Homo sapiens: one gene and its partner. The protein of the gene in region 1 purifies or fractionates together with the protein of each later gene. This does not show direct contact. Each region holds a gene or a part of one and is shown on either strand. Other genes may lie near its edges. The genes, in order: LRRIQ3 and R3HCC1L.

What was found.
Region 2: the proteins of LRRIQ3 (region 1) and R3HCC1L purify together in Homo sapiens (affinity purification with mass spectrometry; 2 studies listed by BioGRID and IntAct, with this or other methods). This does not show direct contact.

The regions. Positions count from the first base shown.
Region 1 is NC_000001.11:74,180,448-74,188,958, forward strand, and holds part of LRRIQ3 (leucine-rich repeat and IQ domain-containing protein 3), read right to left. Parts: intron 3,238-8,511; coding exon 2,989-3,237; intron 2,415-2,988; coding exon 2,091-2,414; intron 1-2,090.
Region 2 is NC_000010.11:98,130,030-98,138,494, forward strand, and holds the start of R3HCC1L (coiled-coil domain-containing protein R3HCC1L), read left to right. Parts: upstream 1-4,627; 5' UTR 4,628-4,677; exon of another isoform or gene 4,678-4,995; intron 4,996-8,465.

The DNA of each region.
Region 1 (8,511 bases):
GTCTAGTTATTATTTCTTCTTTAATATCCTGCCTCAAAGAAGTATGACCAAACTTATCTTTTCACCAAAAGTCTTTAAGTGCTGCCATTTCTGTTAAATAAGTTCTTTTCTGTCCCAGTTATCCAGCTTCAAAATAGTAGAGGAGTATTTCCACACTTATTCTTCTCCTCTTTCCACACTCAGTGTGAAAAGTACACTCAAATCTCTGCACTGTCTGTCATTTGTGATGCAATGTTGACTGCAGACTTGTTGAAATCCCACCTCATGACTCATTTGCTGTCCAATATTGGGTAAGTTCCTAAACCTCACTATGCTTCATTTTCTCCTGTAAAATAAGACTAACATTTTTCCACATCCAAGGAAACAATGAGGAATAAATATTCTTCAAAAAGGCCTTCCCCATCCACCCTAGCTAATGTAGCCCAAATCTCTACCCCTTTCAGTCTGTGTTAATGCCTTACTTTCTTTTCTTTAGCAACTAACACTAGCTGACATTTTATGGTTGTTTAGTTTTATTTTTGTTTCCAGATTTGTCTATTCTCTGTGCCTTTCCCTTGGACTTAATGAGGACAAGAATTTTGTCAGTATTATTTACCACTGAATCTCCAAGTCCCAGACAGTCCTTTTCATATATTAGGTACTCAGTATATACTTGGTGAAAGAATGAAGAAATAAAATGTATAAAGCGCCTACCACAATGGCATTCACTGAATATGTGTCTGTCCTCTACACTGTGTTCTTTCTTCTTTATTACTGGTATCTGCCTATATCAATCCTAATCACATCATTTTGAACCTACAGTAATTGATCCCCTTGCCCTCATTTGGCTTCTATCCTCCATTAATCTGCTAGCAAAATGTTGGGTTGATCACCTTTTAAAAACCTTGTCAATACCATTTATTCATAGAGCACTTACTATGAGGGACCTACCCTAATTTTCCTACTCAAATAATTTCAATTAATCTTCATTATATTCATCAAGTCTAAGCTCTTTAGTAGGTCATCCAAGTTCTTTCTCAATGCCCACTGCCCAACTTTCCATTACTTCCTTAAATGAATCTGTCACTTCGATTATCCTTAAAAGGGTCATGCCTGTTGCCACCTTTCATTATGCCATACTACGCAACTGAAGTACCTAAGTGAAATTCTTTATTTAGGGCCCAGGTTAAGATATCAGACTTAAATACTACCTTGTTTTTTATATTTTTAACTATTAGTACAAAATTATTACCAAAATCCTAAATTTTTAAAACTATTACAAAATCACTAATATGTCCCTAATTAAAAAAATTATATGCAGTAATAAAATTCTTCCAACTTTGTAATTTTCAGTTTTTCCACGCATAATCACTGTTCAATGTTTATATATTCTTTTAGATATACTCACTGTTCAAAATTATGTTCTATTCTTCCTCAAAATTTCTACACACATATATGTGACTTCACATATCTTTAGAACATATTACAAACATTTCCTGCAACTTATTGTTACTATATCTTGTACCTAATTTAACCCCCTCTTTTGAACTCTTAAATGATTTGTTCTAATATTTATTCATGTGTTATAAAGAACGTTTCCTTATGTTTTTGTAAATCCACTTAATTAGTCTGTATCCGTTAACTTGGTATCAACTTTTCACAATCACTTCTTCTAACATTTTATAAATCAATAGATAATGATGGTTTTATCTTGTCAAATAACCAAATCAATTGTGTAAGAATTAAATATTTTATCTTCTAATAATAATCTAAGTCATCCTTTAACGCTCTTAAAAAACATTAAGTATTTCTCAATGGAGTCTTTCATATACCAAATTCTGAATAAATTAGAGATTTACTTTCAATTTAAAAAACAAAAATTTGTTTCTCTACAATTTGATCATTTCAGGCTTTGTTTAATGTAGTTGGCATGCAAACTTTTATCAAGTTTCAGATAGAAAGACATTACAAATATATTCATTGGTTTATATTATTTTATATAAATGATGCAAAAATATTAAAAAGTTTATATAATTTAGATATAGAACTCAGAAGCTAAAATTTCCCTTTTATACATTTAATTAAAATGAAACCCTAAAGAAGCCAATTACCTTTCTCAAAGCTGGGCAGAAATTAAAGAAAAGTCGATGGTTACATGCTTTGAATCTTTCAGGAAGATGCCAGTTCTGAATTATTTCTTCATCAGAAATCACATGATGATCCAGCGCTTTGAGAGGCCATATACTGTTAACAAGAACATGTCTATATCCTTTTTTAAGGCTTACTGGACAATCAAACATAGTGAGGGCAATGAGGGTTGGACAGGCAGATAATACACATATATTCTTTAACTTTGCAAACCCATTGTCATGAAGATAGAGTAGTTTTAGGTTCTTCAATCCATTCCAAAATTTGGTATTTGGTAGACTCTTTATCTGAAATATTATTAAAAATCTTTTAAATTCCAAAATTACTTTTTTCGAATAGCACAGAAAATGGTAAAATATTACACATATAAAATTCAATATTCCCCAAATAGCAAGTTTCTAATTAATAAGCAAACAGAGTATTTATAATTATCCAATGATGGCCAGTTGAAAACCATAATACACTGGGTATCTGAGATAATTTATTATTATTCGCATAGTAAAATGCATAACCATACTTTTTTGTTCAAAGAAAATTTCTTTGTAATAGGTTGACTCTTTAAACTTTTCTAAAATACTTTCCTTACCTAAGGAAAATTAAGGAATCATGAGGCATTCTTAATCCAGGCTATAGATTTAAGAAGTGAAACATACCAGATTACACACTATTTATGTATTTTCATTTACATCAAAGTGTCCGTATTTATATACATCTTACATGCTTTTAATTTATTGTTAAATTTTTGTTTATATTTTAGACAAAAGACCATGTTGAAGAAATACTGTGGATAGGTAACATAAGTACTTATTATAAGACTGAAATTTCGTTTATATGCAAATATCTGAAATGGCTATTGCTTACCTGATTTCCATGGAGATCAAGTTTGATTAATTTTATACAACTTTGAAGTGGATGAATATCTGTAATAAAATTGTTTGAGAAGATGCATACTCTAAGAGAGATGCAAGACTGCAAATTTTCCATAGACTTTAAATGAAGGCCATTGAACTTCACAAAAACAAAATCTTTTTGACCTTCTCTTATGTTTTCATTATAGTGACTCCATTCTTCATGACTGGTTAGCTCTTCTGTGACTGTTCCATGAAACATCTAGGAAAGATAAGAAAGTGCTTTGATTTTTTTTTCCACTTTCAAAAATTTACCTGAAAACAAACAAAATTTTGCCAAGAGATAGCGCAAGTAAAAAGTGTTATTAAAGTTAAAATTTAAAAAAACTCATTCTTATAGAACTTTCTATCCCAAAATAACTTAAATATCTAACATTTCAATAACAGCCAATCAGAATGTTATCACTGCCCTCACCAGTGAACGAACTAATTAGCAAGAGGAAGACAAACTTCCATTTTCATAGAATATTTGAAAAATTCAGTGAAGAAACTGAGATAAAATCATCCCTTCTAGACAAGACAACTAACAACAAACAAATGAAACCATACTTTATATAACTCGTATGATAATTTTTGTTAAAATATACTGTTAAAGAAATACACTGAATAATAAACAAGTCAGGAGAGTGATAATCTTTGTTAAAGAGGCTAAACAATGCAGCCAGATAAAATAAAGGTGCTATACAGGCCTTCAAATGTTATCAACAATATTTGTGTCTTACAGAGAAAATTTGTTGTCAAAATATTTACATTCAATTCAATTAGGAAATTAGGCTCAGAATTCTAATAGCTTTAAATTTTGACTACTTAAATTTATCTAAAATATTTGGATAAATGGTTTTTAATATAATTTTACACAGTATTTCTCATATATGTGAATTTTCACTTATTAAGAGTAATTTCAGCTTTCATAAAAGGTAGTCAGTGATAGGTGAGAAGAGAATGTATGAGCTGAAGTGGTCTATTTGGAAGTATGTTTTAAGATCAACATTCCCCAATGGAAGAATCGATTTCTACGATGTGCAGATAAACTAAATCAGTGTGATTCAAATGAGAATAAATGTGAAAATCCAGATACACTCTTGTACTCTTTCAAGACACTGGTTACTTTATATATCACAACCAAGGCCTAAAACTAGAATCCTCCAGCTCTAAGTGTCAATGAATTAATTAGAAGGCAGATTCATGGGCCCCATCTCATATCTACTGTATCAGAATTTCTGGGCTAAGGGCATAGGAATAATGTTAACAGGTGATCGACGAACACCTTATGAAAGATTAGCCTCAACTACAAGTAAACCAGTCTTAAAAATATAGAGTCAGATATGGAATACACAGATATAAATAAACCTTTACAAATTAAACTCATGAAGCTCTATTGGTGCTGGGATGTAGGATAATATACACATCATTTGGACTTCCAAAATAGAAAAGATATAAGTCTTTCCTCATTTAAAGAAAGCTTAAATTTAAGGTTCCTCCAAGTCTTTAGAAAAATAACTCATTTTTTAAAGTACTGAATAACATTCCATCGCATGGATGCACTATGGTTTGGTTTATTTATCCATTCACCTATTGAAAATGTCTTGGCTGTTTCCAACTTTACACAATTATGAATAAAAGTGCTATAAAAATTTATGTGCAGGTTTTTGTGTGGATATGTTTTCAACTTACTTGGATAAATACCAAGGAGTTTGTTTGCTGAATCACATAATATATTTCATTTTGTAAAAAACTGCTACTGTCTTCCAATGTGGTTGTACCATTTGGACTCCCACCAGCAATGAATGAGAGATTTTATTGCTCCACAACCTCACCAGTACATAATGTTGTCAATGTTTTGATTTTGGTCATATTAATAGGTGAATAATGGTATCTCATTGCTTTAATTTGCAATTCCCTAATAATATATGATGTTGAGCATCTTTCATACATGTGGCTTATTAGCCACATGTATATCTTCCTTGGTGAGTTATCTGTTCAGATCTTTTGTCCATTATATTTTGATTGTGGTATTGTGTTATTGTTGAGTTTGAGTACTTTGTATTACTTCAGATACCAATCCTTTGTCAGATATGTGTTTTCCAAAGTTTTTTTTTCCCATTCTGTGGCTTGCCTTTTCATTTTCTTAATTTTCATTTCATTTTTAGCTCATAAATGCATAAAAAGTCCTTGAAAGGGCCGGGCGCAGTGGCTCACGCCTGTAATCCCAGCACTTTGGGAGGCTGAGGCGGGCGGATTACCAGGTCAGGAGATCAAGACCATCCTGGCTAATACGGTGAAACCCCGTCTCTACTAAAAATACAAAAAATTAGCCGGACGTGGTGGCGGGCGCCTGTGGTCCCAGCTACTCGGGAGGCTGAGGCAGGAGAATGGTGTGAACCCAGGAGCGTGCACTCCAGCCTGGGCGACAGAGCAAGACTACGTCTCAAAAAAAAAAGTCCTTGAAAAACCAACACCGATCAACATGGAACCTCAGAGATCTCATTTCTTCACATAATGCTAAAGGTGGCTTTATACTGTTAATCATGGCATTAGTACACAAATTATATATATGTACACAAAATTATATATATAATTATATTTAATATATAGCTATATAAATATATATAAATATTTTTATTTCAAAGGATTTATTTCTCACATTGATTATTCCATCTCTTAACAGTCTATTTTGAAATTTCTTTATGAAGATATTATCTTCTTCCTGGCATTTATTTTCAGGGATTCTCAACAGTGCTATTAATCAAATATAGTTAGTAATGTCTATAGATTCATCCACCAGGAATAATTGTTTATTTTAAACCTTCTGCATTAATGCTATCTATATGCCATTTGAACATGCCAATGAACTACTAATGGTATTATTCCAAAGTGGAGTTTTTTCTATTTTCCTTACTGATCTCAGATATATTAGAGAATTTTCCAAAATGAGAGGTTCTACACTTGTGTGAGACATTCAAATTTTAGCTATTAGATGAATAACCTTGTTAGTAGCTTTGTGACATTAACAAATACTGTTGTAATGAACCTGATAAAATAACATTGTCCCCTCCCACCAAAATTCTTAAATATGTTCAAATATTTTTCTACATAAAATTTGTAATATATAATAAGGGAATTGGTATGATTGGCACTATTGCCTCACTTGAAAACTTCTTGTAAATAAGACATAGAGTTTGAGGAAGAAATGAAATATTGGTTCACACAAATCCAAATTTGGGATAATGCTCATGATATTACTTAATTCAATGCCTTTTTTTTCCATTTTGTACAACAGTTTACTTTTCAGTTTCAATCAAAAAGATGTCTATTAGAAAAAAAATTGTAAGAATTAAGTACTAGTGTAATTAAGGATATATTAAATTCAAATTTGAGATCTTTTTGATGTTACTTAATGCAGTGTCTTTTCCTCCATTTTGTTCAACTGCCTACTTTTTAGCTTTAATCAATGACTATTATAAGCAAGAAAAAAAATCACTAATCATCAGGGAAATGTAAATTAAAACCTTACTCCTGCAAGAATGGCCATAATTAAAAAGTCAAAAAACAATAGATGCTGTCGTGGATGTGGTGAAAAGGGAATACTGCTGGTGGGAATGTAAACTAGTATAACCACTATGGAAAACAGTATGGAAATTCCTTAAGGAACTAAAGGTAGAACTACCATTTGATCCAAAAATCCCACTACTGGGTATCTATCCAAAGGAAAATAATTCATTATATAAAAAAGACACATGAACATACATGTTTATAGCAGCACAACTCACAATTGCAAAGATATGGTACAAACCTAAGTACCCATCAACTAATTAGTGGATTAAAAAAATGTGAGAGAGATATATAGATATATATATATAGGTATATGTTTACACACACACACACACACACACACACACACCATGGAATACCACTCAGCCACAAAAAGGAACAAAACAATGTCTTCTGCAGCAACTTGGATGTAGCCCAGAAGGCTATTATTCAAAGTGAAGTAACTCAGGAATGGAAAACCAAATATCATAAGTTCTCACATATAAGTGTGAGCTAAGCTGTGAGGATGCAAAGGCCTAAGAATGATATAATGTACTTTGAGGACTCAAGGGTGAAGGTTGGGAGGGTCACGAGGTATAGAAGACTACATACTGGGTACAGTGCACACTGCTTGGGTGACAGGTACACTCAAATCTCAGAAATCATCACTAAAGAACCTATCCATGTAACAAAATAGCACCTGTACCCCAACAACTATTGAAATAAAAATTAAAAAACAACAAAAAAAGTCAAAAAATAACAGATGCTGGTGATGTGGAGAAAAAGGAACGCTTATACATTGTTGGTGGGAGTGTAAATTAGTTCAACCATTGTGGAAGACAGTGTGGCAATTTCCCAAAGACCTAAAAACAGAAACAACATTTGACCCAGCAATCCCATTACTGGGTATATACCTAAAGCAATAAAAATTGTTCTATTATAAAGACACATATACGTATGTTCACTGCACCACTATTCACAATAGCAAACACATGGAATCAACCTAAATGCCCATAAATGGTAGACTGGATAAAGAAAATGTGGTACATTTACACCATGGAATACTATACAACCATAAAAAGAATGAGATCATGTCCTTTACAGGAACATGGATAAAGCTGGAGGATATTATCCTCAGCAAAAAAATGCAGGGATAGAAAACCAAATACTGCATTTTCTCCCTTATATGTGGAAGCTAAATTATGAAAACACATGGACACATAAAGGGGAACAACACACTGGGGCCTACTAGAGGGAGGAGAGTGGGAGGAGGGAGAGGATTAAGAAAAATAACTAATGGGCACTAGGCTTAACACCTGGGTGACTAAATCAATTGTACAACAAATTACCCTGAAACAAGATTACCTATGTATCAAACCTGTACATCTATCCCTGAACTTAAAGCAAAAATTTAAAAAATCCAAACTATTAAGAACCCTGGCTTCTTAGTTAATGAAATGTGCTAACCTGCTATCTTAGGATGTTACACTTCTCTCTCAGTGTAACCTTCTTTGGCAAATTATTGTCTAGTCATTATTTAGACTCTGATTCTATCCACACATCCCCAATTTAGTGATTACATATTTATATATGTTATTATTTAATGGCCCTGTTTTCCACTAAATTATATGTACCCTGTGAACAGAAAACTTGTTTTATGGTTAGGTAGTTTTTCAAATTTTTCCATAGGACCTGAACTAGAACTGAGTCAGGTTTCAATAAATGTCTCTTTCATACACATGTCTGTCTTTTCCTTTCCTCAGAGAAACAGCAAACTATGGGGAAGGAACCTGTAAAAGACTTCTAAGTACAAATGACAAAGTCTCTCCCATTTCGGTAGAAATCTATTGTAAATTCCTTTATTTTTAATTCTCCACAGCCAATAATCACTTGCAAAACAACAAAAAAGGTTTATTTTTCAATTATTTATGTAGTGTAACAAATC
Region 2 (8,465 bases), on another chromosome or scaffold:
CAAAAGATCAAATACACCCACTTCTCTCCATCCCTCTGCAAGCACTTTGTTTCATTATTTCTCACCTAGCCTACTGCAATAGATGGGCTCCCACTTCTACTCCAGTCTTCTAAACCAAAGCAGGAGCAATTGCATTAAAATATGAATCAGATAACATCATCCTCTTTTTAAAACCCCCTTTTTGGTGGCTATAATTTAATCCAGGGTTCTGACCATGGCCTTGAGGCTGTGCATACCTGGCTCTAATTACCACCTCAGGTCATCTAGACCACTTAAACTACACTCTCTCTACCCCAGGAAAACGGACCACTCTGTCCCTCAAACAGCCTGGCTCTTTCTTTGTGTGGTCTGATCCCTTTGGCTGGAGCACACTTTCCCCGGTTCTCCATCTCTTTCTCAACCTTCAGTGCTCAGTGGAAAGGTTGTCTACTCAGAGAGGTCTTCTTAGACCACCTTGTTAAAGTAGTGTAGTATTTTATGTCCATCACTGTAGTCATTGGTTCTTGCATTCCTATAAAGAACTACCTGAGACTGGGTAATTTATAAATAAAAGAGGTTTAATTGTCTCATGGTTCTGCAGGCTCTACAGGAAGCATGGCCAGAGAGGCCTCAGGAAACTTACAATCATGGCAGAAGGTGAAGGGAAAGCAGGTGCATCCTACATTTCTGGAATAGGAGAAAGAGAAAGACGGCGAGGTGCCGCACACTTTTAAGCCATCAGATTTCATGAGAACTCACTGTCACGGGAACAGCAAGGGAGAAATACGCCCACATGATCCAATCACCAGGCCCCACCTCCAACATTGGTGATTACAATTCGACATAAGATTTGGATTGGGACACAAATCCAAACCATATCAACTGTCATTCATGGCCAGGATGTTCTACTGCACAGCAGCCTGCTCCATTTGAAAGTACAGAGTTCTTTGCTTATTTCTTGTTTTATCTGCTAGATTATAAGCTCCGTTACAGTAGGGACCATGCTTGTGTGTTCTCCACTGCGTGCCCCCTCATCACCTTGCTAAGTCTCTGGTGCACAGTAATAAAAATCAATACATATTTGCTCAATGAAGTTGATACAAGGAATTCTTCCAATAGAGGAGTGGACATTACAATATAATGTAGATGTGTGATATGACAAAGGCATTGATATGCTAGTAAACTGGCTCTTCGACAGCAACAACAACAAAAAGAAGCCCTGATTTGTCATTTGCTGATTTCCACGGAGTATTTACACACACACACATTACAAATCACAGCAGATTTCAAACTACCAATGGCTAAAACCGGCTTGCAAAAATTCCTGAACATCTAACAGTTGTCTCTTTAAAGCTGGTATGAGGCTGGGGGTGGTGGCTTATGCCTGTAATCTCAGCACTTTGGGAGGCCAAGGTGCAAGGACTGCTTTAGCCCTGGAGTTCGAGACCAGCTTGGGCTACAGAGTGATAACTCGTCTCTATTAAAAAATTAAATAAATAAATAATAAATAACAAAGTTGGTATGAGCTGGCTCTAGCATATCACTGGAAGAGAGGCCAACATGGGTGGGATGAGTGTCCAGGAAAGGAGCACTAATTTGTCTTGGTGGGGGTGGGGGGCCGAGTTCAGCAAAGGCTTCCTGGAGGAGATGATACTTGACTTGTGTTTTGAAGGGTGGGTATGCTGGCTCTGGCCTGATACCTCTAAACTGAATAACATAGTCCAGTTCCCCATAGGCCACATTTCACTGTTTCTGGGTCCCCTACTGAGCCCACTGCTGTAATGCCTGAGGCTTATCATCTGACTCAGCACAATCCTCAGAAAATCCTTTCGTGTGGCTGGTGTTCTACTGGGTTTCCTCTGAATCCCACAGAGGAGAATTACATAGCAGTATAAGTTAGTCAAGGGAGAAGGGAGAGGGTTTTCCAAACAGAGGGAGAGCTTATACAAAGGTTAAAGAGCAAGCGCTACAGCAGTTTGGTAAATCTAAGGTGTCTATGGGAGGGAGAAGAAGGAGATTAGCTCCTGACAGGCTTTGTTTGATAGGGTAAGGAACATAAACTGATTCCCAATCTGGGCTGGGGCAGGTGGGAGAGAAGGGGAAAGGGACCAATTATAATACTTTTCCTCCATAATTCTTATTACAGCTGGTAACTATGGGTTTTTTGTTGGTTTTGATTTTTGGTATGAAATCATTTAATATCTGTCTCTTCCAAGAGAATGTAAACTCCACAAGGGCAGGTAATATTCGGTTCACTGTTGTTTTCTCAGTACCCAGCACTGGTACATAGCAAGCAACAAAATGTATTTTGTTGAATGACTGAATAACCAGGGAACTTTATTTTATTTTTAATTTTTTTGAGACAGGATTGCTCAGGCTGGAGGGCAGTGGCACAATCATGGCCCACCATAACTTTATTCTTGGGCTCAAGCAATCTCCCCACCTCAGCCTTCCAAGTGGCTAGGACTACAGGCTTGTGCCACCATGGCTGGCTAATTAAAAAAATTTTTTTTTGCAGAGATGAGATCTCCTTATGTTGTCTAGGCTGGTCTTGACCTCCTGGGCTCAAGTAATCCTCCCACCTCAGCCTCCCCAGTTGCTGGGATTACAGGCATGAGCCACCACAGTGGGCCTCCTCGGGAATTTTTTAAAAAATGCCCATGTCCACCTACCCTACAGTAAGATTTCCTATAAATCTTCTTTCACTGAACCTCCCAACCACAATACTGGATTCTGATTGCCTGGTGAGTTTTTCCTGCCCACTGCACAGACAAAACCAATTCACTGAGACCATGGCAGAGCAGTAAAGAATTTAATTGATGACAGAGTTATCTTAAATCAAACTCCCTGAAGGTTCAGAGGTTAGGGTTTTTATGGACATTTTGGTGGGCAGGGGGCTAGGGAATGGGTGCTGCTGATGGGTTGGGAATGAAATCATAGGGGTGTGGAAAACAGTCCTCATGCTCTGAGTCCACCTCTGGGTGGGGCCACAGGAGCAGCTGAGTCATGAGTTAGGAGTCCTGAAGAAGGAACAGATTCAAGGAGTACTTGGGAGATAGTGAGAGAAGAAAGAGACCCTCTCATATTGTTTTATATTGTTTTATACTCAGTACCTGTTTTAAGAAAAAAAACAAGGAAGTGAAACCAAAGGCAGGCAGCCCAGCACCAGGCACCAGACCCAAAACCAGACCTGAAACCAGGCCTGGGCCTGCCTGGCCTAAACCTAGTAGTTAAAAATCAACTCATGACTTAGCATAGATTCCAGGCATTGTATGGAAGAACATTGTACTCTGTTCTGTTTCACTCTGACTACCACTGCATGAAGCCCCTGTCACATACACCCCAGATTGCTCAATCAATCACGACCCTTTCATGTGAAATCTTTAGTGTGGTGAGCCCTTAAAAGGGACAGAAATTGTGCACTCGGGGAGCTTGGATTTTAGGACAGTAGCTTGCCGATGCTCCCAGCTGAATAAAGCCCTTCGTTCTACAACTTGGTGTCTGAGAGGTTTTGTCTGCGGCTCGTCCTGCTACAATAGAATCTCCAAGATTTGGTGACCATTTGAATATTGGAGGAAGAGGAAGTGAGAAAGGAGGAATCAGGTTAAAGAGTGAATATTAATGAGTAGGGAGGAGGGGTAGTAGTTTACTTTTCTTTTTTTGGGGGACGGAGTCTCCCTGTGTTGCCCAGGCTGGAGTGCAGTGGTGCAATTTTGGCTTACTGCAACCTCCGCCTCCCGGGTTCAAGCGATTCTCCTTCAAGCAATTCTCCTGCCTCGGCCTCCTGGGTAGCTGGGATTACAGGTGCCCACCACCACGCACAGCTAATTTCTGTACTTTTAGTAGAGACAGGGTTTCACCATGTTGGTCAGGCTGGTCTCGAACTCCTGACCGCAGGTGATCCACCTGCCTTGGCCTCCCAAAGTGCTGGGATTACAGGCATGAGCCACTGTTCCTGGCCCCAGTAGTTCACTTTTCAAGGACACTGGAGATGCCTGTGGGCATGGATGAGGAGAGGTCTTGTCTAGGAAGTTGGGAATACAAACAATGAGCTCAGGTGAGAAGGGACTGGAGTGTCCCCTCTCCCACCCCAATTTTAAGAACTCTGGAAAACACCAATATTTTAGAGGTAAGTTAGAGGAAACAAAGTAGAATGAATTCAGAGAAGGAAAACCTGGATAGTGTCATAGAAAATAAGTGATAATGCCCAATAGCGTCAAATGACTAAAGCTTGAGTTAGATGAGTCCGGAAATACCTCCAATGAGTTTGGCAACAAGGACACTTATGACAACAAGGCATTTTCCATGGGGGCGGAAGCTGCGATGAGGAGTGAACACAGATGAGCAAGTAGAGACAGTGTAGATTATCTTTTTCAAAAAACTTGGCTGTGAACGGAGGAAGTGAGATGGTATAATTGAGTGGAATGTAAGGAGATTTGCGCACGTATATAGCCGAGAGGAATGAGGAAGGGTTGAAGGGACAGGAGCAGAAATGCTCTCCGGCACTCGCCATTTTGCCAGCTTCTCCCCTACGTGACCTGAACTCAGTGGGCGCGGCCGGGCCTCGCGGAAACTACAACCCCCAGAAGGCCCCACGGCGTTGGGGGCGGAGCCGAGGCCTGACGCGCGCCCCAGCGGCGCGAGCGGAAGAGATAGAGCTTCGCGGAGACGGCGGAAGCGGAGAGCAACAGCGCGCCGGTAACAACCAGCCCCGTATCCCCTCCCTCTGTACCTCAAGCTAGGATTTTTAATCCCCACTTCTCCCTTCACAGCCCGGGACAAGACTTCCATTCCGTCGTTTGTTGCTGGTATTTTTTTTCCTCATGTGACGCGAGGGGCCGCCCCCTGCCTGGGGCGGAGGTTACTGGGAAGCTCCCGCCTTCTGACCCCTGCGGGCCCGCGGTTGAGAGGGACCCTCCCGGGGCTCTTTTGCACTCACTGGGGCTCGTGCTCGCTTTGGGCGCTCGCCCCAAATGATCCTGGCGGAAAGGACGTGCTTTTTCTGGGTTTCAACAGGTATTGAGCGGGGTCCCTGGTTACCCCCTCGGGGCTGCGGGGCCGTGGGCCCCCAGGGCTGCCGGCGGTTTCCGGGCTTCGCTTCGAGCCTCGCCTTTGAGCCTCCTCCGCTGCCCGGGAGCCCCGGGCTACGGGCTGGGAGTGAGCAATCTATAAAGGAGCATGTACTTCCTGCTTTTTCTTGGCAGGCCTGCGAAAAACCCCAAGTCCGATCTTTAAAGTTTGTGAGTGCAGCCCCCTCTCAGTTGTGTACGGGAAGGAGCACAGGATTTGGAGTCTGATATCCTGGGGGAAGTCTCAGTCCGCCACTTGGCTGGACCTGTGATCTTTTGTACAGTAGTCTGTTTAGCGCAGCCTCGGTTTCGTTGTCTGAAAAGTGGGGTTAATGTTCTTTGCCCTGCGGCCTTCCAGGGTTGTGGGCTTCAGCAGAAGTGATATTCCTGCGAAAGCTTTGAACTCTAAAGTATGTTTCGGGTATAACCTTGCCATCCCCCAGTCTCCAGTCTAGGTCAGTTGAGTTTTAAAACCAGGTTCATGTCTATACGAAGATCAAATTAGTTAATAAATAGGGGGAAAGTGTCTTTGGAAACGAATCTGAACCATACAGATGTTTTTATGCCAGGTTCCTAGTGAAGAGGTGACCTTAGGGCGTTACCACCTGTGGAGTCAATTTAAAACTTCATCTGGATTTTAAGGCCCACCAGAATTTAGACTCTTCTTCCTCAGCACACACAACTATCTCTTGCTGTTATAACCTTCCTTCAGTATCACACAGGTACAAGCATAAAGCAGTAAACGTTCCTCAGATATGGTTGTACTACAACTAATACCTGTCCCCAGCAGGTCTTGTGTCTTGTGTCACAGTTGAAATTCAGAATATAAATAGCCAAATATCCCATCTGTTTAATTTTTTTTGACATTAAGCTTTGAGACTAAGCAAGTTGCTTATTGTCTTATTTTTCCCCTTACAGAGAATGCTAATTCTGCAATCAGTTTTTTTTTTTTTTTTGGGTAGAATCAGGATTTCACTATGTCGCCCAGATTGGTCTAACTCCTGGGCTCAAATGATCCTCCCGCCTCGACCTCCCAAAGTGTTGGTATTACAGGCGTTTGACACTGTGCCCACTGTGCCCGACCTCTGCGATTAATTTTTAAAGGGGTAAGAAAGTGTAGTTAGGTATTTTTAGTCTGTGTTTATTCTGAATTTATTGATTGAAGAATACTTGAAAATGGTCCAAAAAACAAGAGAGGATGACAGTAAGTTGCATTAGCTTAGTGTACAAATTCGAGCAAATTTGAGTTCAAGTCCTGGTGCTGTGTCTTACTACAGGTTGGAGTATCCTTATCTGAAATGCTTGGTACCAGAGTGTTTCAAATTTCAGATTTTGGTATATTTGCATATACATAGTTAGATATCTTTGGGATGGGACCCCAATCTAAACATGAAATTGATTTAGGTTTCATATATACCTTATATACATAGCCTAAAGGTAATTTTATATAGTATTTTTAATAATTTAATAATTTGTGTCCAGACGCGGTGCCTCACGCCTGTAATCCTAGCGCTTTGGGAGGCTGAGGCAGGCAGATTGCCTGAGCTCAGGAGTTCAAGACCAGCCTGGGCAACATAATGAAACCCCATCTCTATTAAAAGTACAAAAAATTAACCAGGTGTAGTGGTGCACGCCTGTAGTCCCAGCTACTCGGGAGGCTGAGGCGCGAGAATCGCTTGAGTCCTGGAGGTGGAAGTTGCAGTGAGCAGAGATTGGGCCACTGCACTCTAGCCTGGCCGATAGATTGAGACTCTGTTGGGCATAACACTAAGTTTGGATTGAATTTTTACTAAGACCTGTCACATAAGGTCGGGTGTGGAATTTTCCACTGGTGGTGTCAAAAGTTTTTGGGGCTGGGCGCGGTGGCGCACGTCTGTAATCCTGGCACTTTGGGAGGCCGACGTGGGCAGATCACGAGGTCAGGAGGTCGAGACCATCCTGGCCAACATGGTGAAACCCCATCTCTACTAAAATACAAAAAAAATTAGCTGGGCGTGGTGGCGTGCGCCTGTAGTCCCATGTCCTCAGGAGCCTGAGGTAGGGGAATCGCTTGAACTCGGGAGGCTGAGGTTGCAGTGAGCCGAGATCACACCACTGTGCTCCAGCCTGGCGACAGAGCAAGACTCCCGTCTCAAAAAAAAAAAAGTTTGTAAGCATTTTGGATTTCGGATTTTCCGATTAGGGATTCTCAACCTGTAGTTTTTGATTTTGGGCAAATTAGTTGACTTCTCTGAGCCTGTTTCCTAATCTCTCAAATGGAGGTAAATGGCATTATGTCACAAGGTGTCTACAAAGATGAAATGAGATGTGACCATAAATGGCTTACTAGTGCTGGGTACAAATAAAGTTCTCATTATTTTGTTGCTGTTGTTATTGATGATTATGATAATAGTGATGATGATAATTTTAGGTATTTTCCTGAAATTCCATTTATCTGTAAAATGAGGATAGTCATCCTTAATTCACAAACTTTAAAAAATACTGTAAATAGAAGTTGTCAGATTGCAGTTTGTTTTTTAGCAATTGCATTTTATATAAAAATTATATTAGATTTTTTTTCAACTTTAGAGGTTCCTAAAATGCTGTTGTGCAAGGTTATTGGGCTTTGCTGTGTTTCTGTTTTTCTAGAGATTCCAAATGTTGCTTTGTACCTAGTTTGTTGAAATTGAACTGGTGCTTCATTTACAACCTGTAGTAAGAATGCAATTCTGTACATTGTAGCTTGTAGCAGAGCAATTATCTATCTTTATGACTCAGATATTGACTAGGATAGACGTTTATGGAACAGTTTTGTCTTCCTGCCTTATTTTTATTTTTATTTTTTTTAAGCCAGACTATTAGACTTTAAAATTTAAGCTTATTGGATAGGGTCTGGGAGACTTGGTGACCTTCATTTTTTCAAGATGGCATTTCTTAGTGACTGATGCTAATGATGGCATTGGTATGTATGTATCTGCAGGGAGTGAGAGTTGAGAAAAACCAAGGAGGAAAGCCTTATAGAGAAAAATGGTTTGTTGGTCAAGGCAAAGTCTTGGAGTTTAGAATTGAAGTATATATTTTTTACTTCCTTCAAGTGCCATGTTGACTACCAGATATCTGCAGATTCAGATGCTTAGGAAATGTTTCCTTTACTCTCTTTTTTGATGTGGTATGCCTGTGCTATGTTTTGCCAGCTTCTTTCTTACCTTTAGTTATGAATCAGCAAGATAACTATTTTTTCACACCAGACTTGTATACAAAGCTATGACAATAGAAAGTCACTTCCATTAAAATCTACTTTGTATGCTATAATGTGTTAATTTTTCCTTTATGTTTTAATCTTAAACACTTTTGGCTGGGCCTGGTAGCTCACTCTTGTACTTTCAGCATTTTGAGATCCTCTGAGGTAGGCTCATTTGAGGCCAAGAGTTCAAGACC